4 linked regions of the Homo sapiens genome follow. The protein of the gene in region 1 interacts with the protein of each later gene in a pairwise test. Each region holds a gene or a part of one and is shown in the gene's direction. Other genes may lie near its edges. The genes, in order: FAM163A, VIM, PECAM1 and KIF1B.

Region 1 (7,553 bases):
AGCCACAACATGTCGAGGCCCCCCAAAACCATGTTTGTGGGGTCTTTTCTAGTTCACAAAGAGCTCTCACACCCATCCCCCTCTTTCCTCACAGTCACACTTGAGAATTCAGAGGAAGAGAGGCAAGCCTTGGTTACGATTCCTCGCAATCCTACTGGCAAGGGAGACGTGAGAGGAATGTGAGAGCTGAGCGTTTTGTTCATCTTTGCTTTACAAGTGAGAAAGAAGGTCATTTTCCAATATGGGGTAGCTGCTCAGTGGCACAGGTGATCCTCGAACCTGGGCCTTGAGAACCCCAGCTCTGCCCACACTGCCATGCCCCCGATGTCCAGGCCATTGCCGTGCACAGCCTGCGTGGTCCTGAAAGAGGGGTGGTCCAGCACAGGGGCAGGGAGGAGGGAGGGCACTGTTCTTATACAGCTTCTCCATAATTCCCTGTCTCCTAAAATAGGCTTGGCACATCCTGGAACACTAGTCCAAGCCTGTCTGTGGGGTGGATCACTGCTGCCTCCCCAGCTTCAGGTCACTCCTAGACCTCTCTGTCCATAAGCAGCCCTCAGCGACGAATATGCAGGGAAGTGGTGAGGGGATGAAGTGGTGCTGTAGTGAAAGTGCCTAAGCCTTCCCCACGCTGAGATTCATCTGACCCCGCCTCCAGATGCCCCAAGAAACCCCTGAAGCATGGCCCGCCATGCACCTGGGCAAAATCAAAGTGGTCTCGAACAGTGACGCTCAAGTCTGCAGATGGGATTGAGCTGAGAGGTACAGCTTGCTGCCCCCTGGTGGTCTGTCAGAGTCATAACTGCCAGGGCTGTGACAAGCTAAACAGTGAGCTTTTATTAAGTACCCGGTATGTGTCAGGCATGGTGTATAAGGCTGCAGGGGATAGGAGACCGTGTAAGACACAACCCTTGATCCCAGAGGACTTATAATATAGTGGAGGAGTCAAGATGTTCCCACATGAAAAGTTGACTCTCATCCCACCAAGCGGGATTTGAAGAGCAAACCATGAAGGGCATTGCAATAGGAGCCCAGAAGTGAGAGAGCTTCAGGGCTGGGGCAGTCAGGGGAGGCTTCTCAGAACCTTGAAGGATGGGCAGGATTTAAACAGATGGAAAAAGAAAGGCCACACGCTCCCCTGTCAAAAGCCCCGTCAGGAAACCCCCAGGGTCTCCAAGAGAGTTCATCTGGATTCCTTGACCGGGTTGCAGCCTCTGCAGCTGCATGCCTGCCCTGGCCTGTCCCAGCCTCGCCAGATCCCTCGCAGTTCCTGGAACTGTTTTCTCACACCCCTGGACTGTTCATTCTGCCCTCCCCACCTTGTCTACTGGATAAGCTTTCACTCAGCTTTTAGGATTCAGCTCAATACAACACCTGCAGTGGAGCATCTCCCCTCAGTCAGTAGCTGCCCCACTCTAGGTTCCGCAACTCTAGTCTGCAATTCTGTGGCTGCGAGTCTCACACTGTATCCTAAGGTTTGCCCCGTATCTTTTCATCACTAGGCAATAAGCTGCTTAAGAACTGTAGGACTATGGCTCACACTTGTAATCCCAGCACTTTGGGAGGCCAAGGCGGGTGGATCACCCACCTTGGTGGGTGGTCAGGAGTTTGAGACCAGCCTGGCCAACATGGTGAAGCCCCGTTTCTACTGAAAATACAAAAATTAGCCCGGTGTGGGGTTGCACGTCTATAATCCCAGCTACTCGGGAGGCTGAGGCACGAGAATCACTGGAACCCAGCAGGCAGAGGTTGCAGTGAGCCAAGATTGTGCCACTGCACTCCAGACTGAGGGACAGAGTGAGACTCTGTCTCCAAAAAAAAGAACAGTGGGACTGCATGATGGGGCAGTGGATCACGTAAGCGGAAGAAAGGGAGGTGAGGAGGGAAAGATAAATAGGGTAAGTGTGCAGGAACGTGGGGGATGGCAATGTCTTTGAAGCTGTCTCTAAAAGTTTATGGGCAGATAAATGTATCCTGCAGGCAATGTGGTGCATGAGAGTCACAGAAAGGCCCAGGGGTATGAAGGAAGGCTTAACAGCTGGTGGCAGGAAGGGTACTCAGAGACAAAACTGGGAAGGTTTGTTAGGAAACCATTGTGCCAGTGCAGCTTGAGAGGTGATGAGTCTTCACTGGTGTGGGGGACAGAAGACTGGGGTAGCCAAAGAAGAATTTGAGGAGTTTAAATTCTGGGCAGCTAGGGGAACGTCCCATGGGCTTGTCAAACTCTAATGTGCAACCTACTCAATTGGGACCTTGTTAAAATGCAAACTCTGACTCATTAGGCCTGTGGGGGGCCTGAGATGCTATCTTTCTAATGGTGCTCCCAGGTGATGCCCACGCTGCTGGTCCACAGAGCGGGAGTGGATTTGGAGCCACACTGCCGGGCAGGTGCAGCCCTCTAAGAGGACAGTGGTGGACATGTGATATCTTTGGGTAAAGAGATAAAGGCACCCCCTTTTACCTGGTGAACACACCAGGGTGCATAGCTTTGTGAGCACAGTGCAGTTGGGTTCTAGCCCCCACTTGCCCTTTGAGTAATAAACAATTTGCAAAGCCCTTCGGGACAGCTCTGGTGGAGCCACCAACAGAGCCTCCAGACAGGTCGGAGGAGAGGAGTCCATTTGGAGAGCAGGGTGGTGACTTTAACCTGTCATAACTGAGTTTGAGATGACCACTGGGACATCCACTGAAATGTCTATCTACTAGCAGCTGGAGACCCAGCTGGAGACCTGGACTTGGGGTCTGTGGGCTCACTGATGATATGCCACACAGCGAAGAAAGCAAAATGAGGGTTGTCTGGGAATCATCTAACCCTTCTGGCCTTTTTCAGTGAGTAACTCTCTTCTTCCAACATCTCTGTCCTTTCTGTTGTCTTGCAGGTCGCCGTTCCCTTTACTGAATGTAAGTGATCGTAGTCATTTTTCCATCTCCAAGATGCCAACTTCCCATTCCCCACCCTCCTGCCCCTTGGTCCCAATGCACCTGGGAGGCTCAGAAATCCCCATTCACTGACCTAAAAGGAGAATCTGTCTGAAGCCATGACAGCCTCATGCCCAGAGCTTGCCTCTGTCCTGTTCATTCAGCCTCAGAAGCCAGGACCAGTCTCCCCAGCTTGGCCACAGCCTTCCAGGGCCCAGAATGCCACACACCACTCCCTCTGGGCTCGCCTTGCCTTTGTTTTCCAGGAGGGTTTGAAGGAGAAGAGAGATACCCCCAAAAGAAGTGCTGGTTTGAGCCAGAGAAGAGCCACCTGGTGTTTTCGAGATGTGGCCCTTTCCCCGCCAGCCCGGGCCAAAGGCTCAGGGACCACTGGGGTGTGTGCCAAGAGGGCGGGGATCAAGAGCACAGCCTTTGGGATGAACGGGCTGGGTGGAATCGCAGCCAAATTATTCGCAGCCCCGTTCAGCATGCGTGCGGTAGGGATAGCTAATAACTGCCCCGAAGGGTTATCGCGAGGATGTAGTAAGATGCGTGGGGGTGCTTAGCATGATGCCACACAGGGAGGAGCCCCGCAATCAGCGGCAGCTGTTCCTCTGTGTCTGCAGCCACGCAGAAGCGGGAGCTAAGAAGGGTGTGACGGGAGAGGAAAGGCGAGAAGAGCACCAAAGGGGAAAGATCGTGAGAACTTTTTGAAACTGGGTACTCAACTTCGCCCACTTAGGCTGGCCCAGTCTGGAGCCACAGTCGTCCTCAGCCTTCAGGAAACCCCTGGGGCCTGGCCCTCCCGGCACCTGCTGCTCTCAGGCCCCCTGCCCCAGCCTCGGGGCAGTTCCAGGAAGACTCCCCCCGGCCCAGCCCAGGGCTGCAGCCACAGCTGGTCCTCAGCCCTCCGCACATCTTTGCAGAGTTTGATGGGGCGCCGGGCGGATGACAGCGGGAACGGTTGTGATCACTGGCGGAATCCTAGCTACGGTGATCCTCCTCTGCATCATTGCCGTCCTGTGCTACTGCAGGCTCCAGGTCAGTCCCCGGGACCCGTAGCCAGAGGCTGCCAGGCCACCAGCAAACCTCTTTTTCATTATGGGGGCAGAAACTGGAGGCCGACTTCAGGGCCCACAGAGCCCAAAGCTATGGAATGTAGCAGGCGTAAGTCAAGGAGGATGGGAGTTGGGGCTGGTCGGAAGGGAGCTAAGTGCCCCCCAGCCTGCCCACTCAGAGCACACAGAAAGTGTGCTGGAAAGATACGGGGTCATTGGGTTGTGTCTCCTGCACCTCTGAGATTTCAGGAGCATGGGAAGAGCACCATTCTGGGGAGGCTCTGAAAGCTGCCGCCAGCAGCTCCAGCCCTGTCCTCAATATGATGTGTGTGTCCCTGCCCCGCTCAACTACAGCCTGGAGTTACTGCGAGGAGTGGTGGGAGGGGAAAAGGAAAGCAGTACTGGCCTTGCAAAGCTGGGATTAGAAACTTGTGGAGCAGGCCCCTGGGGTTCAGTGCCTGGCACTAGGTTCTCCATGGAGCAGGGGACAGGGGCACCTGTGCACGCTCAAAAATGCATGGGGCGGGGGGAGCATTCACCCTCTCAGGCATCCCTCTGCCCTTCCGCACAGTATTACTGCTGCAAGAAGAGCGGAACCGAGGTTGCAGACGAGGAGGAGGAGCGGGAGCACGACCTTCCCACGCATCCCAGAGGCCCCACCTGCAATGCCTGCAGCTCCCAAGCCCTGGACGGCAGAGGCAGCCTGGCGCCTCTCACCAGCGAGCCCTGCAGCCAGCCCTGTGGGGTGGCCGCGAGCCACTGCACTACCTGCTCCCCATACAGCTCCCCCTTTTACATACGGACGGCTGACATGGTGCCCAATGGGGGTGGAGGCGAGAGGCTCTCCTTTGCTCCCACATACTACAAAGAGGGGGGACCCCCATCCCTCAAATTGGCAGCACCCCAGAGTTACCCGGTGACCTGGCCAGGCTCTGGGCGTGAGGCCTTCACCAATCCAAGGGCTATTAGTACAGACGTGTAAATCCTTCCACCCCGACCCGCACACACACCCACACTGCTGCCCTGGCGGGGGCCATGGGGGTGATGAATGACCCTCCAACAGCCCCACATGGGTTGTTTCTGTTTCTTTGGCTTTTCTCGCTCCGCAGTGGAGGGTTTACTAGGATTTAAGCTTTTGAGTGCATTGAGAACCAAGACAGGGCCTGGCTCCAACTCTGTGGGCCAGAGGTGGGGGACTGCTAGGTCGAGTCTGCAGCTTCGCCAGTTTCTTGGTTGGGACACTCCTCTGGCAGCCCCAGCACCACCACAACCCCTTGCAGTGTGCCCCAGTCCCCTGGATTCGCTGGACTGCAAAAAGGAGCACCAGGGAAAGCTCAGCAAAGGCTCAGGAGGCCTCCCGGGTCCTCGGGAGATGAAGCATCCGTGCCTAGGAAAAGGGGACAGAGGGCAAGGAGAGAAGTGAGAGCTACAATTCCAGCATTGGAGAAGCGAGGGGCGGGGCGTCAACGGCACTGCTTCAGGACGCGCTTGCTGAAACGACTCCAACAGCTAGTTCACAGCCCAGCTTTGTACGTTGGTTACCATAGCTACTGCTGTCACTGTAGCTGCTCCCGTAGGGTCGTTGATTCCTGAACGTATCACATCTCACCTGCCCCCTTCCTCGTGGGACGTGTCAAGTTGACTTTAAAGCCTAAGGTGGCTTGTGGGGACTGCACCAGAAAGTGTCTAACCTTGTGTTCCCCGAAATCCTTTCTCTGACTTAGGAACCAGCGCCCCCTGCTGGAGAAGTTTTTTCATTTTGTTAGCCGACTTCTGGTAGCTTAGCAAAGAGACCAGCTGACTGTCTCTCGGCCCAGCCCACCACGCCGAGTAGCTTGTGTGGATGCAGTCCTGTGAGGGTGTGCATAACCGTTCCCAGGTGTACGCACGCGCGCGCGCGCGCACAGACACACACACACACACACACACACACACACACACACAGTAACCACGGGTAGGCACCAGGGGCTTTGTACATTCAGGAGCTGCAGAGAGGAAAGGTCTCCCATGTACCAGAGAAGGAAAAGTCTGATCCCGAAACAGCTTGAACGAAAGGTGGTTAACACGTGACCAATCCCCATGGCAGACAGCGGGCTGGTGAACAGGAAGAGCACAGAATCTCTGTGGGGCGATGCTGCAGCGGCTGAAACCACGTCAAGTCCCCCAGAGCCCGGCATTCTATGTAAGCATCCACCTGTGACGCCGTGGAGCAGGATCTTCATTCATCTCACCAGAGCAACAGCCCAGTCCTGAGGATGGGAGGGACGTGACTTAGCCTTGGGATTCCACGCTCGCCGCCCTCCCTTGGCCGCCCTACTCCCCAGTTTCCTGGCGATGAGCCATTTATTGTGTCTCACACCAGCCTCATTTCCAACTCCGACTTCCTACTTAGAATGTGGCAGTGGCTTTGTGAGTGAGAATCCTGATGAGTTTTCCAGTGGCCTCTGCAGAAGCTGGCCCCCTTCTAAGGGCATAGCTAACCCCCTTCCCACTCCTGAGTCACTGAATTCGAGGAGGGTGGGGCAGGGAAAGGGCTGGCCCCCCTGCTGAAATCTTGATTCTGCATTTGAGGAAGGTCAGGGTGCCGCTGGGGGAGCAGGGAGCGGGGAGGGAGGAAGAGGGGAATGCACATCTTTTGCGCCACTATTAAGGCACCTGTCACCTTACATCTCAATCTGGAATCAAAGTGCCCTGGGTTGAGAAGCAGACCTGGGCTCTGGTCACACTTTGGTCACTCATTAGCTCTAGGACCAGTCACTAATCTCTGAGACTCCATTTTCTCCAGGGAAACGAGGCTTGCCCAGATAGACTAACAACCCTTTAGTGCTCCAAGAAGTGAGAATTTCCGAAAAAGATCTGCCGGCCCAGAGCACTCCCTCTTGCCCTAATCCTGGCAGGGTCTGGATGTATTTACCCAACTCTGATCTTGCGTGCAGGGATGCTTGCTGATGGATGAAAGACCACAATAAAACAAGATTAGCAGCAAAACAATTTTAATTGTCAGTGAAAAGCAAACATGTTTGTCAGACTCTCCTGTGGAGTCATTTCAAATGGTAACTCTTCTCTTGTACCAGGAAGCAGCTGTAGGTGGGGTAATGGGATCTGTCTCCTGGTGCAGAGGGGCAGCTTATGGCGGCAGCAGCTTCAACAAGCCCGTCCCACGGCCAGCCCTAACTGGGCCAAGTGCAAGCTCCTGATGAGCTGCTGGGCCTGGCAGCGTTCCCCACTTCCTAGTGCCTTGCTCCCCTGGAATTCCACAGCCAATCAACCACAGCAGCCGTGTCCTCCTTGCCAGAAATAACATCATTCGTACGTCCTGCCTTTGTAAAAATCAAGACCCAGTTAACCATCACCCACTTCTTGCCCCTGATTGATGGGGTCCCTGAGTACAAGCGTCCTGTGCAATCCCCTCCCTCCTACCGCTTTCCTAGCTAAGCCCTGCTAGCCCCACAAATCAGAATCTGGGTTTGGGGTGCTGGAGAGATGGTGGGCCCCAGCTCTTCCCCACATAGCCCACGCTGCTCAGGGCACGGTCTCCAACCAGGCTCGAGATTGCCTGCCTGCCCGCTGCAGCCG
Region 2 (7,406 bases), on another chromosome or scaffold:
TTGCAACACATTGACCTTCTGGTTTCGAACGGTTACAATTTTAGATTGTGGTTTGCCAAAGTCAAGTTGCTTAATTTTTACAAGGCCACAAAAAGCGCAATTATGCCCTGCAGTTTAAAATGGAAAACGTGTTGGAAGATAAGAAAACTTAGTTTCCAACTGGAATGGAGCCAGCAAGTTTCTTTTCTTCTTTGCAAATTCTATTGTGTCATTAAAGTTCGATGGAAGTATCACTATGCACAACTATTTTGTGATCTAATAAGGGTGAAAAGGAGCCATCTGTCCCCTTGGCTAAGGGGTATTAATGGTTTCTATGGGCTTCACTATGGAATGTAGATACAGACATTCTGGCAAATGTGGTGGCTCTGGACAGAAATAATAGGAGTCTTTGTATTCCCAGGGAAGCTTTGCAACAGGCTACATTCTTACTGAATATGTAATGATGTAAGCACGGTTCTAATTGGACACAAGTATTTGCTAACATCCGTTATCTAATATCTGGCCCAGACTTGAGAAGTAGGTAATGTAAAAAGTTTTTAAAGCTACAAGCATACCTCACATTTTAAAAGTCCTTTCTTGATTGGGTTCTTGTGTTCTTTAGCACTCTTGCCATAAAAAATAATAACAGTAATAAACCCAAGGCTGAAAAACTGAATTTTAACTAAAGGGTTTTTGTGCGTGTTTTTTTTTTTTTTCACCAAAATTAGATGGACTTACAGAATTTTTAACTTAAAATTGGAATCCAAAAGCCAGAAGATCCCCATTATAGTTTATAGTTGTATTCCCTGGAATATTTACTGGGATTAACTGCAAAGCACTCTCAGATGAATAGTGTAGTATAACATTTTGAAACTGAAATACATTTACCAAATTAATTTAACCACAGCAATGTGTGTGGTTCATTTTAGTCCTTGAGCATTTTTGATTATCATACCTGTCATGTTTTCTGCAGTGTAGTGAGTTAACATAAAACAACATCAATACAAAAGATCCTCTGTTTCGAGATTAAGCAAAATTCCTCATTCTCTTCAATGTGATAGAATACCACATTGATCTTTCTTTGGAGGTTAGTAAAATATCTTTTATGTATTTTTCAGGGCTTAACAAGTAAAAATCAATGTTTTCATCAAGTCTGATCTTTTTGTCACCCACTCTTCATTCATTTTTCCACTAAGGTGATAGAAAAGTCTCAACAGTTTAAGACCGTAAGGCTATGAACTCCAAATATAATTGCTGACAAGATAAGCAATCCTCACGCATCCTTTTGAGAGGAAATAAAATCTTAGTTGCAAGATTACATATTCTGATTTGGAATGCTGAGCTTTTTAAATGGAAATATAGAAGGACGGCTGAATCAGCAAAAATCCTTTATGTAGTTTCATTCTTTGCAAGCTTGACCAGTCATTCTGAAACAGGCTAACTGAACTGATACAGTGGCAAGTGAAAAAGACATGCCTTTACAGGATGAGTCAAAGGAGTTTTAGAAGAAAAATCCACCAGAGAAAGCCAAGCAAATACAGTTCAGAGTTACATTTCTTTTCCATTTTTTCCTGAACTGAATCTTTGGCATGCATATCCTGAATTGGGTTATTGAATATAAATCTAGCCTTGTACAATGGATGCCAGATGACTACATATTTGCTTTGGAGCCTAAGGATAAGTTTCAAAAGATTTGAGTGGAGAAGAAAAGCTAAAACTCTTGAAGCACAAGTTTCTGTTCTCCATGTACTCAAGTGTACATGAAGTTGTGAAAATTTGTCCACCTCTATCATCATGTTATTCCATGAAATTACAAAACAAATCTTAAAAATGTTGTGGCATAGATTTTCTAGATTTAAAAAGTAATTAAATTAAATGAATTACTTTATTTTTTGAGACAGAGTGTCACTCTGTTGCCCAGGCTGGAGTGCAGTGGCACTATGTTGGCTCACTGCAACCTCTGCCTCCTGGGTTGAAGAAATTCTCCTGCCTCAACCTCCCAAGTAGCTGGGACTACAGGCATGTGCCACCACACCCAGCTAATTTTTGTATTTTTGGTAGAGACGGGGTTTCGCCATGTTGGCTAGGCTGGTCTCGAACTCCTGACCTCAAGTGATCCACCCGTCTCAGCCTCCCAAAGTGCTGGGATTACAGGCATAAGCCACCATGACCAGCCTTAAAAAGTAATTTTAAAATATCACTGGTAAAATGTGGATTCAGTCATGATTGAGTGCAGTTTACCATGTGTGTGGACATTTATTTATTTTAAAATTGTCTGATCACCACCTTGAGTAAAACACAAGCAGTCACAATTAAAATATATTAGTGAGCAGGAGAAAGCACAGCATATTATAGCACTGAATGATTTATAAACCTATTCCAGGGTCATAAAATGTGTCAACGGCTTTTCTATAGTAAGGAGACTAGGTTCAGATGGTTAATCTAAGACAAATAAATGAGATAAGCCATACACTTTTACATCCTCCATGTCCTGTCTTTTCTCTGTTCAAAATAGGATGTTGACAATGCGTCTCTGGCACGTCTTGACCTTGAACGCAAAGTGGAATCTTTGCAAGAAGAGATTGCCTTTTTGAAGAAACTCCACGAAGAGGTTAGTGGAGTGACTTTCGGGGAATGAATGAGGGTAAGGCAGCCCCCACGGTTGGCAGAGCTGACCGTCTGTCTGTTCTTTTTGCAGGAAATCCAGGAGCTGCAGGCTCAGATTCAGGAACAGCATGTCCAAATCGATGTGGATGTTTCCAAGCCTGACCTCACGGCTGCCCTGCGTGACGTACGTCAGCAATATGAAAGTGTGGCTGCCAAGAACCTGCAGGAGGCAGAAGAATGGTACAAATCCAAGGTAGGAAACAAATCAGTGCGGCTTCAACCAAAGAAAAGCATTGTGTTCTCAAAACCCCATACCTGTGTGTGATTCCTAAATATCCTCTAGCTCCAATGCAAAGCTGGCTTTGACTTCTTGCTCATATTGTGTTTGCCACCACAGCCTCCCCACCACTCACATCACCTCCTTTATTTATTTATTTATTTTCTTATTTATTTATGAGACAGAGTCTTGCTCTACTGCCCAGGCTGGAGTGCAGTGGCAACATCTTGGCACACTGCAACCTCCGCCTCCCAGGTTCAAGTGATTCTCCTGCCTCAGCCCCCTAAGAGCTGGAACCACAGGCAAGCACCACCATGCCCGGCTAATTTTTGTATTTTTAGTAGAGATGGGGTTTCACCATGTTGACCAGGCTTCTCTCAAACTCCTGACCTCAGGTGATCCACCCTCCTCAGCCTCCCAAAATGTTGGGATTACAGGCATGCGCCACCACGCCTGGCCACATCACCTCCTTCAGAATAGCAGACTCTCTTCCCCCTAACCTTGCCTCCAAGTAAACCCCAATGCCATACCTTTGACCTCCACTGTGTTGAAATGAGCACTGTAGAGTGAACTCTGAAAATACTAATGTCAGTACTCCACTGCTCTTTCCCTGGCTTTCAAAACAGAAATTTAAACCTATACTGGAAGACATTCAGTGAGAAATATGATTTTTTTTTTCTAAGAGAGTCAAAAGACTTGAATGTGAGCAATCTACATTTCTGTTTTCTTCCCAACAGTTTGCTGACCTCTCTGAGGCTGCCAACCGGAACAATGACGCCCTGCGCCAGGCAAAGCAGGAGTCCACTGAGTACCGGAGACAGGTGCAGTCCCTCACCTGTGAAGTGGATGCCCTTAAAGGAACCGTGAGTACCAACCCTGCAGTAAAAGAGGGAAAATAATGACCCATTCTGCTGACTAGGCTCATGATGATACCTGAACAAAATGTTGAGTGAGTAAAAATGTATATCATAATGCAAAGAAAATGAGTTATCAAGACAGACTCAAAAGGGACTTCATGGAACTCTTGAAGGTTTTAGCTTGCCTATATCATTGCTTCTAATATGAAGGACTTGGTACTCGCATTCTCCACCTAAAATTAGAGTGGTCGCCATTTGCCGCTAATGGAAATTATTGCAGAAGGTCTGTAAATGGTTCTGGGAACAGCTGGGTTTTTCTGAGAAATAACACCAGACATCTTTCTCACCCCCTGCAGAATGAGTCCCTGGAACGCCAGATGCGTGAAATGGAAGAGAACTTTGCCGTTGAAGCTGCTAACTACCAAGACACTATTGGCCGCCTGCAGGATGAGATTCAGAATATGAAGGAGGAAATGGCTCGTCACCTTCGTGAATACCAAGACCTGCTCAATGTTAAGATGGCCCTTGACATTGAGATTGCCACCTACAGGAAGCTGCTGGAAGGCGAGGAGAGCAGGTAGGGAACTCAGACTTGGATGCGTGAACTAATGGTGACCATTTGTTAGGCCCTGTGCCACTGGGCTCTAAGCAGTGTCACATTTAATCTTTAGAAAGTTTCTTTGAGGTAACTGCTTTCCACTTTTTGTAGAGGAGGAATTTGAATTGAGAGAGAGTAAGTGACTTGCTGAAAAAGGGTTAATCAACAGCAGAGCTGGGATTTGAACCCATAACTCTGTCAAAGCCTCCACTCCTAACTCCTGTTCATGCTCCTGTGGAGAAAATGCTTGTAGTAACATATTTTAAATGTACTAACAAGACCAGTCATGGGAAAATGTTTCTGAGACAAATCTCTAGTTTATGATTTAAAACAGTACGTTTTCTTACGTGACGAAAACAAAAAGTGTGTTAATTTGTTCCCAGTGGTTGAAGTTATTTGCCAACAATTTTACTGTTTCTCTTCATCTGTTTATAGGATTTCTCTGCCTCTTCCAAACTTTTCCTCCCTGAACCTGAGGGGTAAGCATTTTATTTCCCTTTAGGAAAAACGTCAGCTGCTTGTAACCACTGTGTTTATGTCAAAGCATTCATTTTTTTTAGGATATCTGAAAAAATGCCATATAAGAGAAAACTCTATAAAACATCTATAATTTTCGAACCCAAGTACACTCTTGCATTCTATGCTTTAAGTTAAATGCAAACTCCTTTTTCCTTCTTCCTGCTGCAAGTACTATCTCATCCTGATGCTCAAGAGTGTCAGGGCCTGGGTTTCCAAACAGAGACTACCCTAAAATTATTTGGCGAGTAGTACTTTACACAATTGCCTCTCCCCCACAAATCATAATTGTTTCAGTAAAATGGTTACTTGGTTTTTCCAAGAAAAAACTCGTTTTTACTCATTTTTGGCCTGTTTGTTTATTTAGAAACTAATCTGGATTCACTCCCTCTGGTTGATACCCACTCAAAAAGGACACTTCTGATTAAGACGGTTGAAACTAGAGATGGACAGGTTGGTATCTTTTAAGGAAAAAATAGGGTAATCTCAGACAGGAGTTGATATATTTTAAAATCAGTGAATCTGAATCTCAGATACAGCTGGCTAATTTGAGAGGTTCAGGTTTCATTCATGCCTACTAAAAAAAGAATAGGCTTCTTCTTCCAGCAGTACACACAGCCAACTAATTATTTGGCTCCTGGATGTGAAGTTGAGATAGCAGTCTTCCTGTGCTCCAGAATTAGTGATTTGCTTTGGTGCTTAATTTGAAGTGGGAGTAAGCTTCCTTAAACCACTTCCTAAAGCAGCTACATGAAACAGCTTCACTAGACTACCTCAATATGAGGAATGTTTTGATCCTGGACATATGGTGTCTTCCTACCTCCATACTTTATAGATTCCTAAACCCATCTATATAATACAAGCATGTGCCATACGATCATTTAGTTTCTTATTACCTCCCTATGCCAGGAAAGAAATAGTTGCAATTTATTGTAGTCATCATGAAATCTTCCCTTGCACATAAATTTAAAATGTACCTGCTGCACATTTTAATATGTCTTAATTGCTTTTAAACTTGGCTGTATTGTGTACAACTATTATACCATCTTTTATAAACACAGTTTTTTAAGAAATTTCTTTTTGTAAGTTACAACATTCCACTGGATCCTTATATTGCCTGTAGTGGAAGAGGGTCTTGTGTGTCTGCCCCTTCTAGTTTTCACTCATGCAGAAGCAACATAACCTTCTGATTTGCACAATAAATTACATATATTTAGCAGGATTTTTATTTGCCGTGATATATAGGATAATTTAGTCTTTGGCATGTGGCATTATATTTATTTTGGTTTTTTTTTTTAAACAGGTTATCAACGAAACTTCTCAGCATCACGATGACCTTGAATAAAAATTGCACACACTCAGTGCAGCAATATATTACCAGCAAGAATAAAAAAGAAATCCATATCTTAAAGAAACAGCTTTCAAGTGCCTTTCTGCAGTTTTTCAGGAGCGCAAGATAGATTTGGAATAGGAATAAGCTCTAGTTCTTAACAACCGACACTCCTACAAGATTTAGAAAAAAGTTTACAACATAATCTAGTTTACAGAAAAATCTTGTGCTAGAATACTTTTTAAAAGGTATTTTGAATACCATTAAAACTGCTTTTTTTTTTCCAGCAAGTATCCAACCAACTTGGTTCTGCTTCAATAAATCTTTGGAAAAACTCTTTTGTTGTGTTATTTATTGGATAATATCTAAACAATTCTCTACTTGGTCCTATTAGTTAATTTGTCATTACAATCATGTAAGTTGATAAATTCAGGTTATTTATGCTTGAGATGTAGTTCTTAATTTTGTCATTTTTGATAGACCTCACTTCTTTTTATTATTACTTAAAAACATTTACAAATAGGTGGTGTCGAATAAAATAACTTGTACCAAAATGAAGATAGGTCTCTCTAAAATGAGCTCAGGTCTGTGATTTTAATCATAACAAACAGACTTCCTAAAATTAAAAAATAAAAACTTTTTTTAGTACATATAGCATATGAGTAACACAAATTCCACTTTGGGAGTTAAAGCATAGGAAGTTGCCAAGATATAGGGGCTTATCTTCCGCTAGCAAGATGCAGAGAAATGGAAAAAGTTCACCAAGTTTTTCTTTTATTTAAGACAGGATCTCACTTTGTCACTCAAGCTGGAGTAAAGTGACTCAATCATAGTTCACTGCAGCCAACAACTCCTAGGCTCAGGCAATCCTCCCACCTCAGCCTCCTCAGTAGCTAGGAGTACTCAAAACAAATAAACGAATGTCTAACTTTAGCCTAAAATGTGAGTTGTCTTCCCAAAACTAGCCACACACCTGGCTAATTTTTTTAATTTTTTGTAGAGATGGGGTCTGGAAGTGTTGTCCAGCCTAGTCTGGAACTCTTGTGCTCAAGTGATCCTCCCTCGGCCTCCTAAAAAGCTGGGATTACAGGCATGAGCCACCACACTCAGCCTAGTTCACCAAGATTTAATATATGAAACCGTTCTGCTTTATTGTGTGTGTGTGTGATAGCTATATCTATATCCATCTATCTATAGATACAGATATTTGTAAAGACCTTTGTGTTTGGAGAATGGCATTAG
Region 3 (7,553 bases), on another chromosome or scaffold:
CCGCCACAGAGAGAACCTGCAATAAATACTTGTGGGGTGAAATGAGTGAGTGAACAAATACATGAGTGAATGCATGAATCATTATTTGCTGCATTACAAGCTGCAAAACTTTTCTTTTGTTGCTTTTTTTTTTTTTTTGAAATGGAGTTTCAGTCTCTTTTTTTATTATTATTATACTTTAAGTTTTAGGGTACATGTGCACAATGTGCAGGTTAGTTACATATGTATACATGTGCCATGCTGGTGTACCGCACCCATTAACTCGTCATTTAGCATTAGGTATATCTCCTAATGCTATCCCTCCCCCCTCCCCCCACCCCACTACAGTCCCCAGAGTGTGATGTTCCCCTTCCTGTGTCCATGTGTTCTCATTGTTCAATTCCCACCTATGAGTGAGAAGATGCGGTGTTTGGTTTTTTGTCCTTGCTATAGTTTACTGAGAATGATGATTTCCAATTTCATCCATGTCCCTACAAAGGACATGAACTCATCGTTTTTTATGGCTGCATAGTATTCCATGGTGTATATGTGCCACATTTTCTTAATCTGGTCTATCATTGTTGGACATTTGGATTGGTTCCAAGTCTTTGCTATTGTGAATAGTGCCACAATAAACATACGTGTGCATGTGTCTTTATAGCAGCATGATTTATAGTCCTTTGGGTATATACCCAGTAATGGGATGGCTGGGTCAAATGGTATTTCTAGTTCTAGATCCCTGAGGAATCGCCACACTGACTTCCACAATGGTTGAACTAGTTTACAGTCCCACCAACAGTGTAAAAGTGTTCCTGTTTCTCCACATCCTCTCCAGCACCTGTTGTTTCCTGACTTTTTAATGATCGCCATTCTAACTGGTGTGAGATGGTATCTCATAGCGGTTTTGATTTGCATTTCTCTGATGGCCAGTGATGGTGAGCATTTTTTCATGTGTTTTTTGGCTGTATAAATGTCTTCTTTTGAGAAGTGTCTGTTCATGTCCTTCGCCCACTTTTTGATGGGGTTGTTTGTTTTTTTCTTGTAAATTTGTTTGAGTTCATTGTAGATTCTGGATATTAGCCCTTTGTCAGATGAGTAGGTTGCAAAAATTTTCTCCCATTTTGTAGGTTGCCTGTTCACTCTGATGGTAGTTTCTTTTGCTGTGCAGAAACTCTTTAGTTTAATTAGAGCCCATTTGTCAATTTTGGCTTTTGTTGCCATTGCTTTTGGTGTTTTAGACATGAAGTCCTTGCCCATGCCTATGTCCTGAATGGTAATGCCTAGGTTTTCTTCTAGGGTTTTTATGGTTTTAGGTCTAATGTTTAAGTCTTTAATCCATCTTGAATTAATTTTTGTATAAGGTGTAAGGAAGGGATCCAGTTTCAGCTTTCTACATGTGGCTAGCCAGTTTTCCCAGCACCATTTATTAAATAGGGAATCCTTTCCCCATTGCTTGTTTTTCTCAGGTTTGTCAAAGATCAGATAGTTGTTGATATGCGGCGTTATTCCTGAGGGCTCTGTTCCGTTCCATTGATCTATATCTCTGTTTTGGTACCAGTACCATGCTGTTTTGGTTACTGTAGCCTTGTAGTATAGTTTGAAGTCAGGTTGCGTGATGTCTCCAGCTTTGTTCTTTTGGCTTAGGATTGACTTGGTGATGCGGGCTCTTTTTTGGTTCCATATGAACTTTAAAGTAGTTTTTTCCAATTCTGTGAAGAAAGTCATTGGTAGCTTGATGGGGATGGCATTGAATCTATAAATTACCTTGGGCAGTATGGCCATTTTCACGATATTGATTCTTCCTACCCATGACCATGGAATGTTCTTCCATTTGTTTGTATCCTCTTTTATTTCATTGAGCAGTGGTTTGTAGTTTTCCTTGAAGAGGTCCTTCATGTCCCTTGTAAGTTGGATTCCTAGGTGTTTTATTCTCTTTGAAGCAATTGTGAATGGGAGTTCACTCATGATTTGGCTCTCTGTTTGTCTGTTATTGGTGTATAAGAATGCTTGTGATTTTTGTACATTGATTTTGTATCCTGAGACTTTGCTGAAGTTGCTTATCAGCTTAAGGAGATTTTGGGCTGAGACAATGGGGTTTTCTAGATATCCAATCATGTCATCTGCAAACAGGGACAATTTGACTTCCTCTTTTCCTAATTGAATACCCTTTATTTCCTTCTCCTGCCTAATTGCCCTGGCCAGAACTTCCAACACTATGTTGAATAGGAGTGGTGAGAGAAGGCATCCCTGTCTTGTGCCAGTTTTCAAAGGGAATGCTTCCAGTTTTTGCCCATTCAGTATGATATTGGCTGTGGGTTTGTCATAGATAGCTCTTATTATTTTGAGATACGTCCCATCAATACCTAATTTATTGAGAGTTTTTATCATGAAGGGTTGTTGAATTTTGTCAAAGGCCTTTTCTGCGTCTATTGAGATAATCATGTGGTTTTTGTCTTTGGTTCTGTTTATATGCTGGATTACATTTATTGATTTGTGTATATTGAACCAGCCTTGCATCCCAGGGATGAAGCCCACTTGATCATGGTGGATAAGCTTTTTGATGTGCTGCTGGATTTGGTTTGCCAGTATTTTATTGAGGATTTTTGCATCAATGTTCATCAAGGATATTGGTCTAAAATTCTCTTTTTTGGTTGTATCTCTGCCCGGCTTTGGTATCAGGATGATGCTGGCCTCATCATCCTGAGGGAGGATTCCCTCTTTTTCTATTGACTGGAATAGTTTCAGAAGGAATGGTACCAGTTCCTCCTTGTACCTCTGGTAGAATTCGGCTGTGAATCCATCTGGTCCTGGACTCTTTTTGGTTGGTAAGCTATTGATTATTGCCACAATTTCAGATCCCGTTATTGGTCTATTCAGAGATTCAACTTCTTCCTGGTTTAGTCTTGGGAGAGTGTGTGTGTTGAGGAATTTATCCATTTCTCCTAGATTTTCTAGTTTATTTGCTTAGAGGTGTTTGTAGTATTCTCTGATGGTAGTTTGTATTTCTGTGGGATCGGTGATGATATCCCCTTTATCATTTTTTATTGCGTGTATTTGATTCTTCTCTCTTTTTTTCTTTATTAGGCTTGCTAGCGGTCTATCAATTTTGTTGATCCTTTCAAAAAACCAGCTCCTGGATTCATTAATTTTTTGAAGGGTTTTTTGTGTCTCTATTTCCTTCAGTTCTGCTCTGATTTTAGTTATTTCTTGCCTTCTGCTAGCTTAAGGAGTTTCATTCTTGTTGCCCAGGCTGGAGTGCAGTGGAGCAATCTCGGCTCACTGCAATCTCTGTCTCCTGGGTTCAAGGGATTCTCTTGCCTCAGCCTCCCAAGTATCTGGGATTACAGGCGCCCACCACCATGCTGGCTAATTTTATATTTTTAGTAGAGATGGGGTTTCACCATGTTGCCCAGGCTGGTCTCAACTCCTGACCTCAGGTGATCCACCCACCTCTGCCTCCCAAAGTGCTGGGATTACAGGCATGAGCCACCACACCTGGCCACAAGTTGCAAAACTTTTCTAATCCTTGTCATTGAAATAAATTGGATTAACAAGAAAGGAAAACCTGCCATTGGAATCCTAGGCAAAGAATGAACCCTAGCTCCTTACTGGGGTGATCGTTAGGTACATGAGAAGCAAAGGAAAACTTTTTGCTGGAAGTTGGAAGTTGGTTCTGCCAAGAGCACCTGAGCCAAGGGCCTCTCCAGGAAGGGTCTTTAGGGTGGTGGCCAGACACATCTCGCTCCATTCCCACTCACTGTTTTTCAGAACTATTTTCCAAGCCCGAACTGGAATCTTCCTTCACACATCTGGACCAAGGTGAAAGACTGAACCTGTCCTGCTCCATCCCAGGAGCACCTCCAGCCAACTTCACCATCCAGAAGGAAGATACGATTGTGTCACAGACTCAAGATTTCACCAAGATAGCCTCAAAGTCGGACAGTGGGACGTATATCTGCACTGCAGGTATTGACAAAGTGGTCAAGAAAAGCAACACAGTCCAGATAGTCGTATGTGGTGAGTATATTGTTGCTGACTCAGAGGACATCCAGGGTTGAATGGGAGAAAGGAAATTTATCTGCAGCTGCCGCCCTCTCCGGTCTGAGCAGACTCAGGCAGGGTAAGAACTAGAGGGAGAGAAGTGCGAAATCAAAGGCCAAAGAAACAAGGAGGTATTCCTGCTCAGAACACTGATTCACTGATGATGATGTGGCCTCTGACTTGCTAAGATTCTGGCAAGATTCTGCCTCCTGGAGCAAGTACCCACCCAAAAGTTCAGGAAGGAAACACTACTTAGTCAATGTTAAACTTTTCTTTTTTTTTTTTTTGAGACGTGTCGCCCAGGCTAGAGTGCAGTGGCACGATAGCTCACTGCAACCTCTGCCTCCTAGGTTCAAGTGATCTCCTGCCTCAGCCTCCCAAGTAGCTGGGATTACAGGTGCCCACCACCATGTCTGCCTAATTTTTGTATTTTTATTTTTATTACTTTTATTTATTTATTTATTTATTTTTTTGAGATGCAGTCTCGCTCTGTCACCCAGGCTGGAGTGCAGTGGCACAATCTGGGCTCACTGCAAGCTCCGCCTCCTGGGTTCACGCCATTCTCCTGCCTCAGCCTCCCAAGTAGCTGGGACTACAGGCACCCGCAACCACGCCCGGATAATATTTTTTTGTATTTTTAGTAGAGATGGGGTTTCACCGTGTTAGCCAGGATGGTCTCCATCTCCTGACCTCGTGATCTGCCTGCCTCAGCCTCCCAAAGTCCTGGGATTACAGGCCTGAGCCACCACACCCGGCCAAGAATATCAAAATTCCATTTTTTAAATCTGTATCCTGGCTAACCCAAAAGGGTAAGACTTCCAGTGGACAGAATGTAGGTATTTGACCACCAGGAGCTGGGCTTCTCAGGCCTGAATGTGCATGCAAGACCTGGTTAAAATACAGGTTATGATTCAGTATTTTAGGCCCAGATGGGGCCAGGTTCTGCATCTCTAACTAGCATTTTGGTGATGTGGATGCTGTTGGTCTCTGGACCACACTTTGGGTGGCGAGATTCTGGTTGATTATAGAACTCCAGTCAAGTTGTCACTGTCACTATATTATTCAGTCACGATCCTTTCATTTAACCTGTGGCTGTGTTTTATCCAGCTAAGATTTTATTATAGCTTCAACTGAACCAGGATTTTAGCCTATTTTTAATGCTCTAACCACCTAACTCAAAAGGCAGGAATGCAAGAGACAAATGTGTGTTATAACGTTTTATTTTATTTTTTGTTCTTGGGAGGAGGAAATCTCATTGTATAAGGTTTAAATAAACTAATGCCTAAATAATGACCTAATATAATTCTTATCTGTTAAGAGGCTGAAGCACTAAGAAGACTTTTTTTATCTTTTTTTTTTTTTTTTTTTTTTGAGATGGAGTTTTGCTCTTGTTACCCAGGCTGGAGTGCAATGACATGATCTCGGCTCACTGCAACCTCTGCCTCCCGGGTTCAAGCGATTCTCCTGCCTCAGCCTCCCGAGTAGCTAGGATTACAGGCATGTGCCACCTTGCCCAGCTAATTTTGTATTTTCAGTAGAGACGGGGTTTCTCTACATTGGTCAGGCTGGTCTTAAAGTCCTGACCTCAGGTGATCTGCCCACCTCGGCCTCCCAAAGTGCTGGGATTACAGGCATGAGCCACCGTGACTGGCTGAGAATAATTTAAAAACATATATATTGGCTGGACCTGGTGGCTCACACCTGTAATCCCAACAATTTGGCAGGCCAAGGTGGGTGGATCACCTGAGGTCAGGAGTTTGAGGCCAGCCTGGCCAACATGGTGAAACCCCCTCTCTACTAAAAATACAAAAGTTAGCCGGGTGTGGTGGCACATGCCTGTAATCCCAGCTACTCGGGAGGCTGAGGCAGGAGAATCCCTTGGACCCAGGAGGTGGAGGTTGTGGTCAGCTGAGATTGCGCCATTGCACTCCAGCCTGGGTGACAGAGCAAGACTCGGTCTCAGAACACACACACACACACACACACACACACACATATATGCTCAGCCAGGTGTGGTGGCTCATACTTATAATCCCAGCACTTTGGGCAGCTGATGTGGGAGGATCACTTGAGTCCAGGAGTTCAAGACCAGCCTGAGCACATAGTGAGACCCTGTCTCTACAAAAAATAAAGAATTAGCCAGGTGTGGTGTGCACCTATAGTCCCAGCTACTCGGGAGGCTGAGGTAGGAGGATTGCTTGATTCTGGGAGGTTGTAGTGAGCTGTCATCGCACCAGTGCACTCCAGCCTGGGTAATAGAGTGAGACCCTGTCTCAAATACACACACACACACACACACACACACACACATTTTGTTGGCTACTTGTTGTACTTTTTCTATGTTTTCTGTGTCTTTGCTCAACACAAGAAAAGTATATTATGTGTGCATGTGCGTGTGAGATATGGTAAAATATGAACATGTATTTCTGGGGATGTAATGTTTTCCTTGAATTTCTGTCATTCTCTGTTTTGCTTATTGTACTTCTCTTTCCCTTTCCCTTCTCACCACACACACACACACACACACACACACACACACACAGCCTGTCAGTCTCATAGGTGTCCTATAAAGGTAAATAAGGCAGGCAGGCATTTGAAATTACAGCAGGGATAGAAAGCAAAGCTCAGGCTTTGGAGGAGGAACCTCTTGTGCTGGATGCTTTGCTTTTACCTTCAGTGCCTTTTGGATTGTTTCTCCCTCTGTTCTAGAAATGCTCTCCCAGCCCAGGATTTCTTATGATGCCCAGTTTGAGGTCATAAAAGGACAGACCATCGAAGTCCGTTGCGAATCGATCAGTGGAACTTTGCCTATTTCTTACCAACTTTTAAAAACAAGTAAAGTTTTGGAGAATAGTACCAAGAACTCAAATGATCCTGCGGTATTCAAAGACAACCCCACTGAAGACGTCGAATACCAGTGTGTTGCAGATAATTGCCATTCCCATGCCAAAATGTTAAGTGAGGTTCTGAGGGTGAAGGTGATAGGTAAGTTGCTGTGCTGTGAGAAGAAATCATGTGGGCTTGGGGCATTCTTTCACGCCCAGGGACTGTGGGAACAATAAGAGAAGTAGGGGGCCAGGTGCGGTGGCTCATGCCTGTAATCCCAGCACTTTAGGAGGCCAAGGCCGGTGAATCATTGAGGCCAGGAGTTCAAGACCAGCCTGGCCAACATGGTGAAACCCCATCTCTACTAAAAATACAAAAATTAGCTGGGCATGGTGGCGTGCGCCTATAATCCCAGCCACTCGGGAGGCTGAGGCAGGAGAATTGCTTGAACCCAGGAAGCAGAGGTTGCACTGAGCCAAGTTGCGCCATTGCACTCCAGCCTGAGCAACAAGAGCGAAACTCCATCTAAAAAAAAAAAAAGCGAGAGAAGTAGTGGGTGCTTATGCAAAGTCCATATACTAGATATGCACCAAAGCAGGGCCAAGGTTCAGTAAAGGAGGCTGGAAAATATTTGGGGGCTATTGATGAGGACAATGTAATCTCTTTCCAGAACCTTTCAACAAACTGCTAAAATATGATAAGCATGA
Region 4 (7,553 bases), about 170 Mb from region 1:
CCCCCTGCCTTCCTGTTTGTAATCCCCTTCCCAGGCTGCTAATCATAGTAGATCTTTTCCAGGAGGAAGCATATCCTTTTGGTCTTGTAAACTAACATGATATAATTTCATAATGCTCTGAAGTTATTTTATGTCTATTTCATGTATTTCTCTTTGAAAGATGGCCTCGTTTGAACAGGTACTGGTGAATATCTGGATTCTGTGAAACAGTGTGAATAAATATGCATACTTCTTGAACTTTTTTTGTGCAGCTTGTCAGGATAGAAGAGAAATTAAACAGATGTGACTGTGGTAGGAAAAACCTGCAAAAGGTGCCTTGGGCCGGATGCAGTGGCTCACATCTGTAATCCCAGTGCTTTGGGAGGCTGAGGCGGGAGGATTGCTTCACATCAAGAGTTTGAGACAAGCTTGGACAACATAGCAGGACCCCCATCTCTACCAAAAAAAAAAAAATCTGGATGTGGGTGGTGTGTGTTTGTAGTCCTAGTGCTTCGGAGGCTGAGTGGGGAGGATGGCTTGAGTTTGAGATTACAGTGAGCTAAGACAGCGCCATTGCACTCCACTCTGGGCTCAGACTTTGCCTGCTAAAAATAAAAAGATGCCTTGGACTTCTCAGAGTTGAACTGTTTGGTTAACGGGCCACTGATTCATTGATGCTCTTTTACTATAGGCATTACCCATTAACTGAGGGTGCATGTAGAGATTTAGTTCTTTACCTTCCAGGAACTCACACTTTACCACTTCTTTCTTTCTTTCTTTCTTTTTTTTTTTTAAGACAGAGTCTCGCCCTGTCACCCAGGCTGGAGTGCATTGGTGTGATCTCAGCTCACTGCAACCTCCGCCTCCCGGGTTCAAATGATTCTCCTGCCTCAGCCTCCCAAGTAGCTGGGATTACAGGCACCTGCCACCATGCCCAGCTAATTTTTGTATTTTTAGTAGAGATGGGGTTTCACCATGTTGGCCAGGCAGGTCTCGAACTCCTGACCTTCTGATCCGCCTGCCTTGGCCTCCCAAAGTGCTGGGATTACAGGCATGAGCCACCGTGCCCTGCCCTTTTTTTTTTTTGGGATGGAGTCTTACTCTGTCACTCAGGCTGGAGTGTAGTGGTGTGATCTTGGCTCACTGCAACCTCCACCTCCTGGGTTCAAGTGATTCTCCTGCCTCAGCCTCCCGAGCAGCTGGGACTACAGGTGCACACCACCATGCCCAGCTAATTTTTGTATTTTTAGTAGAGACGGGGTTTCACCGTATTGGCCAGGCTGATCTCGAACTCCTGACCTTGTGATCCACCCACCTCAGCCTCCCAAAGTGTTGGGATTACAGGCATGAGCTACTGCACCTGGGCTACCATTTCTATATAGAAATGGTGAGATAAAGTTAACTCCAACTCCTTTTCATTTTAGTACAATTTAGTATCCTGATATGGTTTCCGTGATTTCCAGTCAGAGCATTTTCAAAATTCTTTGTAATGTTGTATGTACATAATACTGTACTTATTATCTAATACTCAATTGGTACTTTTACATTTGTCTTGTGGTTTTTTGTATAGTGTTTGAAGTCACAAGCTTGTAAATGTTTGATGGATTTAAAAATTTATATATTTTATATATATATATATATATATATATATATATATATTTTTTTTTTTTTTTTTTTTTGAGACGGAGTTTCACTCTTGTTGCCCAGGCTGGAGTGCAACGGCGCGATCTCGGCTCACCGTAACCTCCACCTCCCAGGTTCAAGCGGTTCTCCTGCCTCAGCCTCCCTAGTAGCTGGGATTACAGGCCTGTGCCACCACGCCCAGCTAATTTTGTATTTTTAGTAAAGTAGGGGTTTCTCCATGTTGGTCAGGCTGGTCTCGAACTCCCGACCTCAGGTGATCCACCCACCTTGGCCTCCCAAAGTGCTGGGATTACAGGCATGAGCCACTGTGCCCGGCCTATTTTTTGTATTTAATATCACATTGTTTATACCAAAGCATATCATTCAACCATACTACCCTCTACCATTGCCCGTTTTTTTCCCCTTGAGACAGGCTCTTACTCTATTGCCCAGGCTGGAGTGCAGTGGCGCAGTCATGGCTCACTGCAGCCTTGACCTCCTGGGCTCAAGTGGTCCTCCTATCTCAGTCTCCTGAGTAGCTGGGATCACAGGCATGCGCTACCATGCCCAGCTAATTTTTAAATTTTTGTAGAGATGGAGGTCTCACTATATTGCCTATTGCCCAGCCTGGTCTTGAACTCCTGAGCTCAAGTGATCCACCTCAGTCTTCCAAAGTGGGAGGATTAAAGGCATGAGCCCCTGTGCCCAGCCCCATTGCTCTTTTGGATTACTATATTGTTGGCTTAGTTCTCTCTTTCATCCAGATTTTTGACATCATCTTGGCAGATGTCAATGACTATGTAAATAAACAATAACAGAAACAACAATAGTGATAAAATAGCTTATTCATATTGAGCACTTTCTGTGTGCCAGGCTTTTTTCTAAGCACTTTACGTTTATTAACTAATTTAACCCTAATAGCAGCCATATGAAATAAATACTGTTATTCCCATTTTACAGATGAAACTAAAACAGGCCAAGTGACTTCCCCAAAATCATAAGTACTAGTAAGTAACCACTATGCTGAGTTTCCTTTGTAACTACCGTTAACTGTGAAATTTCTTGAATTGAGCTCAAGCAAACATTGGCTTCATTCTGTTCCAGTTGTTTAGTGTTATGGCCACATTTTTAACTTGTCATCATGTTAAGGTCTCAAATTCACCTTCAAGTCTTAAACTGTGATAATTGATAGCTTTCACTTTCATAATCACTTTATGTGTGTTCTCCCACTCTAAGTCTCCTAAACCGTCGGCCTCTTCCAGATTTTACTTCTTTTCCTTCCTTTTCTATACTACGACCTCTGGGTTGCATTGCTTGCAGTTTTTATTCTTTCTTATTATTCTTCAGGACTTACTATGCAGAAGCCAGCCTCACATCATCCCTACCATCCATACCCTCCATTCTTACTCCGTGTCATGGAGAAACCTGCATAGTGCTGGGGATTAGTGCCACAATTAATGTGTAGTCCGAGGTCTCCCTTAAATCTGTCTTTGGTCCCTGTCGGAGCAGTTCTGCTTAGCTCCCTCCCCATTTCTCCACAGTTGCTATTATAAAATCTGGACCCCTTGACTCAAACCTGTCACTGCCCCATGCTTGGCAGAATACCTTGCCTGCCACCTCATAGGAAAAAAGGGCATGAACTCCCTGAGCTTTCCCTTCCTCTACTTACAAACTTCTCTGCCCTCTTTCTTCTGTTCTTTCCCCCAGTGTGAGAAAGAGGTTACTCTGTCTTGGCCTCTGTTAGGGATAGCACTGTTCTAATCTGTAGGAACTCGCAGTATTGGTTACTCTTCTTTTCCCTGCAGTACTTGCCCATTTTCTTTTTTTTTTTTTTTTTTTTTTTTTTTTTTTTTTGAGACAGAGTCTTGTTCTGTCACCAAGACTGGAGTGCAGTGGCCTGATCTTGGCTCACTACAACCTCTGCCTCCCGGATTCAAGTGATTCTCCTGCCTCAGCCTCCCAAGTAGCTGGGATTACAAACGTGTGCCACCACGCCCAGCTAATTTTTGTATTTTTAGTAGAGATGGGGTTTCACCGTGTTGGCCAGGCTGGTCTCAAACTCCTGACCTCAGGTGATCCGCCCGCCTCTGCCTTCCAAAATGTTGGGATTACGGGCGTGACCCATTGTGCCCAGCCTTTTCTACTGTTCTTGAACACACCAGGCATAGTCCTACCATAGGGCACTTGCTCTTACTCTTTCTTTTTCTTTTTTTTTTTTTTTTGAGACAGCCTTGCTGTGTCTCCCAGGCTGGGGTGCAGAGGCACAATCTCCTGGGTTCAAGCAATTCTCCTGCCTCGGCCACCTGAGCAGCTGGGATTATAGGCACCCACCACCAAGCCCAGCTAATTTTGTATTTTTAGTAGAGACGGTGTTTCACCATGTTGGCCAGGCTGGTCTTGAACTTCTGGCCTCAGGTGATCCACCTGCCTCAGCCTCCCAGAGTGCTGAGGTTACAGGCGTGAGCCACCGCACCCAGCTGCTCTTACTCTTTCTTCTGCCTGGAATACTTTTCCCCTGAAATCTGCTTGGCTAACTCCTTTACCTCTTTCAAGTCTTTGCTTAAATCTCAGCACATCAGCAGGCCCACCCTGACCTCATTTATGCACCTGCACAGCAATCCTTCCCACCACCACAATCTTGAACCCCCTGACTTTGCTGTACTCCCCCGTGATGCTGATTACATTCTCGATTCTCTATACCTGATTTATTAATTTTAATGTCCTCCCTCTCCCTACTAGAATGTAAATTCCTCCATGACAAGGAGGTTTGTTTATCTTTTTTGTTCACGGATTATTTTTCCCAGGAACTGCCTGTTGCATTGTAGGCACCCAGTAAATAGCTATTGAATAAAGTATAGAAATGTGCAAGTCTTTCCTATTACAAATAAAGGGCTGGGGGGAGGAAAATCCCTCCTTCGTTTCTGTTCCTTCCAATAAAATCCTTCATTCCTATTTGCTCTCTCCTGCTCATCATAGCCAGGCTCTGACAGTGTCATGGATACTGGCATTTCCCACTTCCGTGCCAACCCACTACAGGCTGGCTTCAGTGTCCCCTCCTGCCCCCCACTTCATGGATACTGCCCTTGCTGTGGTTTCCAGCCTTTATTGCTGAAACCAGGAGGCACACTTCACACTTTTGCAGTACTAAGTATGTTACTCATTTTGTTTTTTTCTTCCTTGAACTTTTGGCTACTTCTGTTTGTGGGCTGGTTTCAGTCTTCTGAAACTGCTGTTTTTCTGGCTACTCACATGGCTATTAAATTCATTCAACATAAATCTTTGTGCAACTTTTTTTTTTTTTGAGACAGAGTCTCGCTCTGTCATCCAGGCTAGAGTGCAGTGGTGTGACCTTGGCTCACTGCAACCTTCATCTCCCGGGTTCAAGTGATTCTCCTGCCTCAGCCTCCCGAGTAGCTGGGATTACAGTCATGTGCCATCACACCCAGCTAATTTTTGTATTTTTAGTAGAGACAGCGTTTCATCATGTTGGCCAGGCTGGTCTTGAACTCCTGACCTCAAGTGATCCACCCGCCTTGGCCTCCCAAAGTGTTGGGATTATACGCGTGAGCCACGATGCCCAGCCGATCTTTATGTAACTTTTAAAAGCTTGCTGTGTCGTTTGGTTTTATTTGTTTTTAGGAACTAGAACTTTGACTACACAACATATTTACAGTGTTAAATAGCAGAATAGGCTATTACAGGAAGTTTTTATTTATTTATAATTTATACCAGTTACTACTTCTAGAAAGGATTTGAGCAGCTTACCACAAATATATACAGTGAAGCTATTAAAATATAAATAAGTAAAAATTTATGTAACAAGAAAAACTAAATGTATAGGTTGCCTCGGCTAATGTGGTTATTGTAATTTAATTTGGAAACATGGAATTTAATGCAAAAAGGGAAAGATAAATTGTACAATTTTCACTCTGGTAAAAGAAAGCCTAATAGTTTGTCGAGAGAAACCTTTTTTCCTAGTATTAAATTCTAAAGATGTTCTAAGAGAAAATTGTTATAAACATCCTGATATAAAGATACGTACGGCCGGGCGCGGTGGCTCATGCCTGTAATCCCAGCACTTTGGGAGGCCGAGGCTGGTGCATCACTGAGGTTGGGAGTTTGAGACCAGCCTAACCAACATGGAGAAACCCCATCTCTACTAAAAATACAAATTTAGCCGGGCATGGTGGTGCATGCCTGTAATCCCAGCTACTTGGGAGACTGAGGCAAGAGAATCACTTGAACCTGGGAGGCGGAGGTTGCAGTGAGCCGAGATCATGCCATTGCACTCCAGCTTGGGCAACAAGAGCAAAACTCCATCTTAAAAGTAAAAAATAGGCCAGGCCTTATGGCTCACGCCTGTAATCCCAGCACTTCGGGAGGCCGAGGCAGGCGGATCACCTGAGGTCGGGAGTTTGAGACTAGCCTGACCAACATGGAGAACCCCATCTCTACTAAAAATACAAAAAAATCAGCTGAGTGTGGTGGTGCATGCCTGTAATCCCAGCTACTCGGGAGGCTGAGGCAGGAGAATCACTTGAACTCAGGAGGCAGAGGTTGTTGTAAGCTGAGATCGTGCCATTGCACTCCAGCCTGGGCAACAAGAGTGAAACTCACCTCAAAAAAATAAAAAATAAAGACTTACTAGGGCTGGGGACAGTGGCTCACACCTGTAATCCCAGCACTTTGGGAGGCCTAGGTGAGAGGATTGCTTGCGCCCAATAGTTCGGTATCAGCCTGGGCAGTGAAGCAGGATCTCATCTCTATTAAAGATAAATTTAGTGGATGGGCGCGGTGGTTCATGCTTGTAATCCCAGCACTTTGGGAGGCTGAGGCAGGCGGATCACCTGAGGTCAAGAGTTCGAGACCAGCCTGACCAACATGGAGAAACTCCGTCTCTACTAAAAATACAAAATTAGTTGGGTGTGGTGGCACATGCCTGTAATCCCAGCTACTCGGGAGGCTGAAGTAGGAGAATCACTTGAACCCGGGAGGTGGAGGTTACGGTGAGCCGAGATCGCGAGCCATTGCACTCCAGCCTGGGCAACAAAAGCGAAACTCCGTCTCAAAAAAAAAAAAAAAAATTAGGTAGGTGTGGTGGCATGTGCCTGTAGTCCCAATAACTCCAGAGGCTGAGGGAGGAGGATTGCTTGAGCCTGGGAGATTGAGGCTGCAGTGAACTGTGATTGTTCCACTGTACTCCAGCCTGGGCAACAGAGTGAGACCCTGTTTCAATAGATAGATAGATAGATAGATAGATGATAGATAGATAGATAGATAGATAGATAGATAGATAGATAGATATGTACTAAATGTTTTCAACAGCTTCTTTAAGTAAAAGGAAGAAATGTTCTTCAAATACCTTTACAAAATAAAATAAAAAATAAACAGGGCAGTGATGCATGCCTATAGTACCCAGCTACTCCTGAGGCTGAGGTACAGCCAAGGAGTTTTGAGGCTGCCATGAGCTTCAATCACACCACTCACTCCAACCTGGGCGGTGAAAAAGTGAGACCCCTTTTCTTTGTTTCTTTTCTTTTTTGAGACAGAGTTTTGCTCATGTCGCCCAGGCTGTAGCGCAATGGTATCATCTTGGCTCACTGCAACCTCCGCCTCCCAGGTTCAAGCTATTCTCCTGCCTCAGCTTCCTGAGTAGCTGGGATTACAGGTGCCTGCCGCCAAGCCCAGCTGATTTTTGTGCTTTTAATAGAGACGGAGTTTCACCATGCTGGCCAGGCTGGTCTTGAACTCCTGACCTCAAGTGATCCACCCACCTTGGCCTCCCAGAGTGCTGGGATTACAGGCATGTGCCACTGTGCCTAGCCAGATAGTAGTTAAAACATTTGGGGAGCATGACTGAGCCTGTTTAGCCATATTGGAGATTAAAAATCTGATATGTCAGGAGACTACTCGTGTATAGTCTGATTCTTGGATTGGGTTAGAATACAGAA

What was found.
Region 2: the proteins of FAM163A (region 1) and VIM interact in binary tests that used the Homo sapiens proteins (3 or more experiments, as listed by UniProt).
Region 3: the proteins of FAM163A (region 1) and PECAM1 interact in binary tests that used the Homo sapiens proteins (3 or more experiments, as listed by UniProt).
Region 4: the proteins of FAM163A (region 1) and KIF1B interact in binary tests that used the Homo sapiens proteins (3 or more experiments, as listed by UniProt).

What each region holds. Positions count from the first base shown.
Region 1 is NC_000001.11:179,809,231-179,816,783, forward strand, and holds the end of FAM163A (protein FAM163A), read left to right. Parts: intron 1-94; exon of another isoform or gene 95-216; intron 217-451; exon of another isoform or gene 452-703; intron 704-2,879; 5' UTR 2,880-2,901; intron 2,902-3,545; exon of another isoform or gene 3,546-3,845; 5' UTR 3,846-3,867; coding exon 3,868-3,960; intron 3,961-4,548; coding exon 4,549-4,959; 3' UTR 4,960-6,968; downstream 6,969-7,553.
Region 2 is NC_000010.11:17,231,093-17,238,498, forward strand, and holds the end of VIM (vimentin), read left to right. Parts: intron 1-2,494; coding exon 2,495-2,590; intron 2,591-2,677; coding exon 2,678-2,839; intron 2,840-3,600; coding exon 3,601-3,726; intron 3,727-4,076; coding exon 4,077-4,297; intron 4,298-4,753; coding exon 4,754-4,797; intron 4,798-5,201; coding exon 5,202-5,287; intron 5,288-6,137; coding exon 6,138-6,179; 3' UTR 6,180-6,501; downstream 6,502-7,406. UniProt on the Homo sapiens protein: Vimentins are class-III intermediate filaments found in various non-epithelial cells, especially mesenchymal cells. Vimentin is attached to the nucleus, endoplasmic reticulum, and mitochondria, either laterally or terminally.
Region 3 is NC_000017.11:64,359,592-64,367,144, reverse strand, and holds part of PECAM1 (platelet endothelial cell adhesion molecule precursor), read left to right. Parts: intron 1-3,747; coding exon 3,748-3,996; intron 3,997-6,729; coding exon 6,730-7,005; intron 7,006-7,553. UniProt on the Homo sapiens protein: Cell adhesion molecule which is required for leukocyte transendothelial migration (TEM) under most inflammatory conditions.
Region 4 is NC_000001.11:10,213,536-10,221,088, forward strand, and holds part of KIF1B (kinesin-like protein KIF1B), read left to right. Parts: intron 1-7,553. UniProt on the Homo sapiens protein: Has a plus-end-directed microtubule motor activity and functions as a motor for transport of vesicles and organelles along microtubules.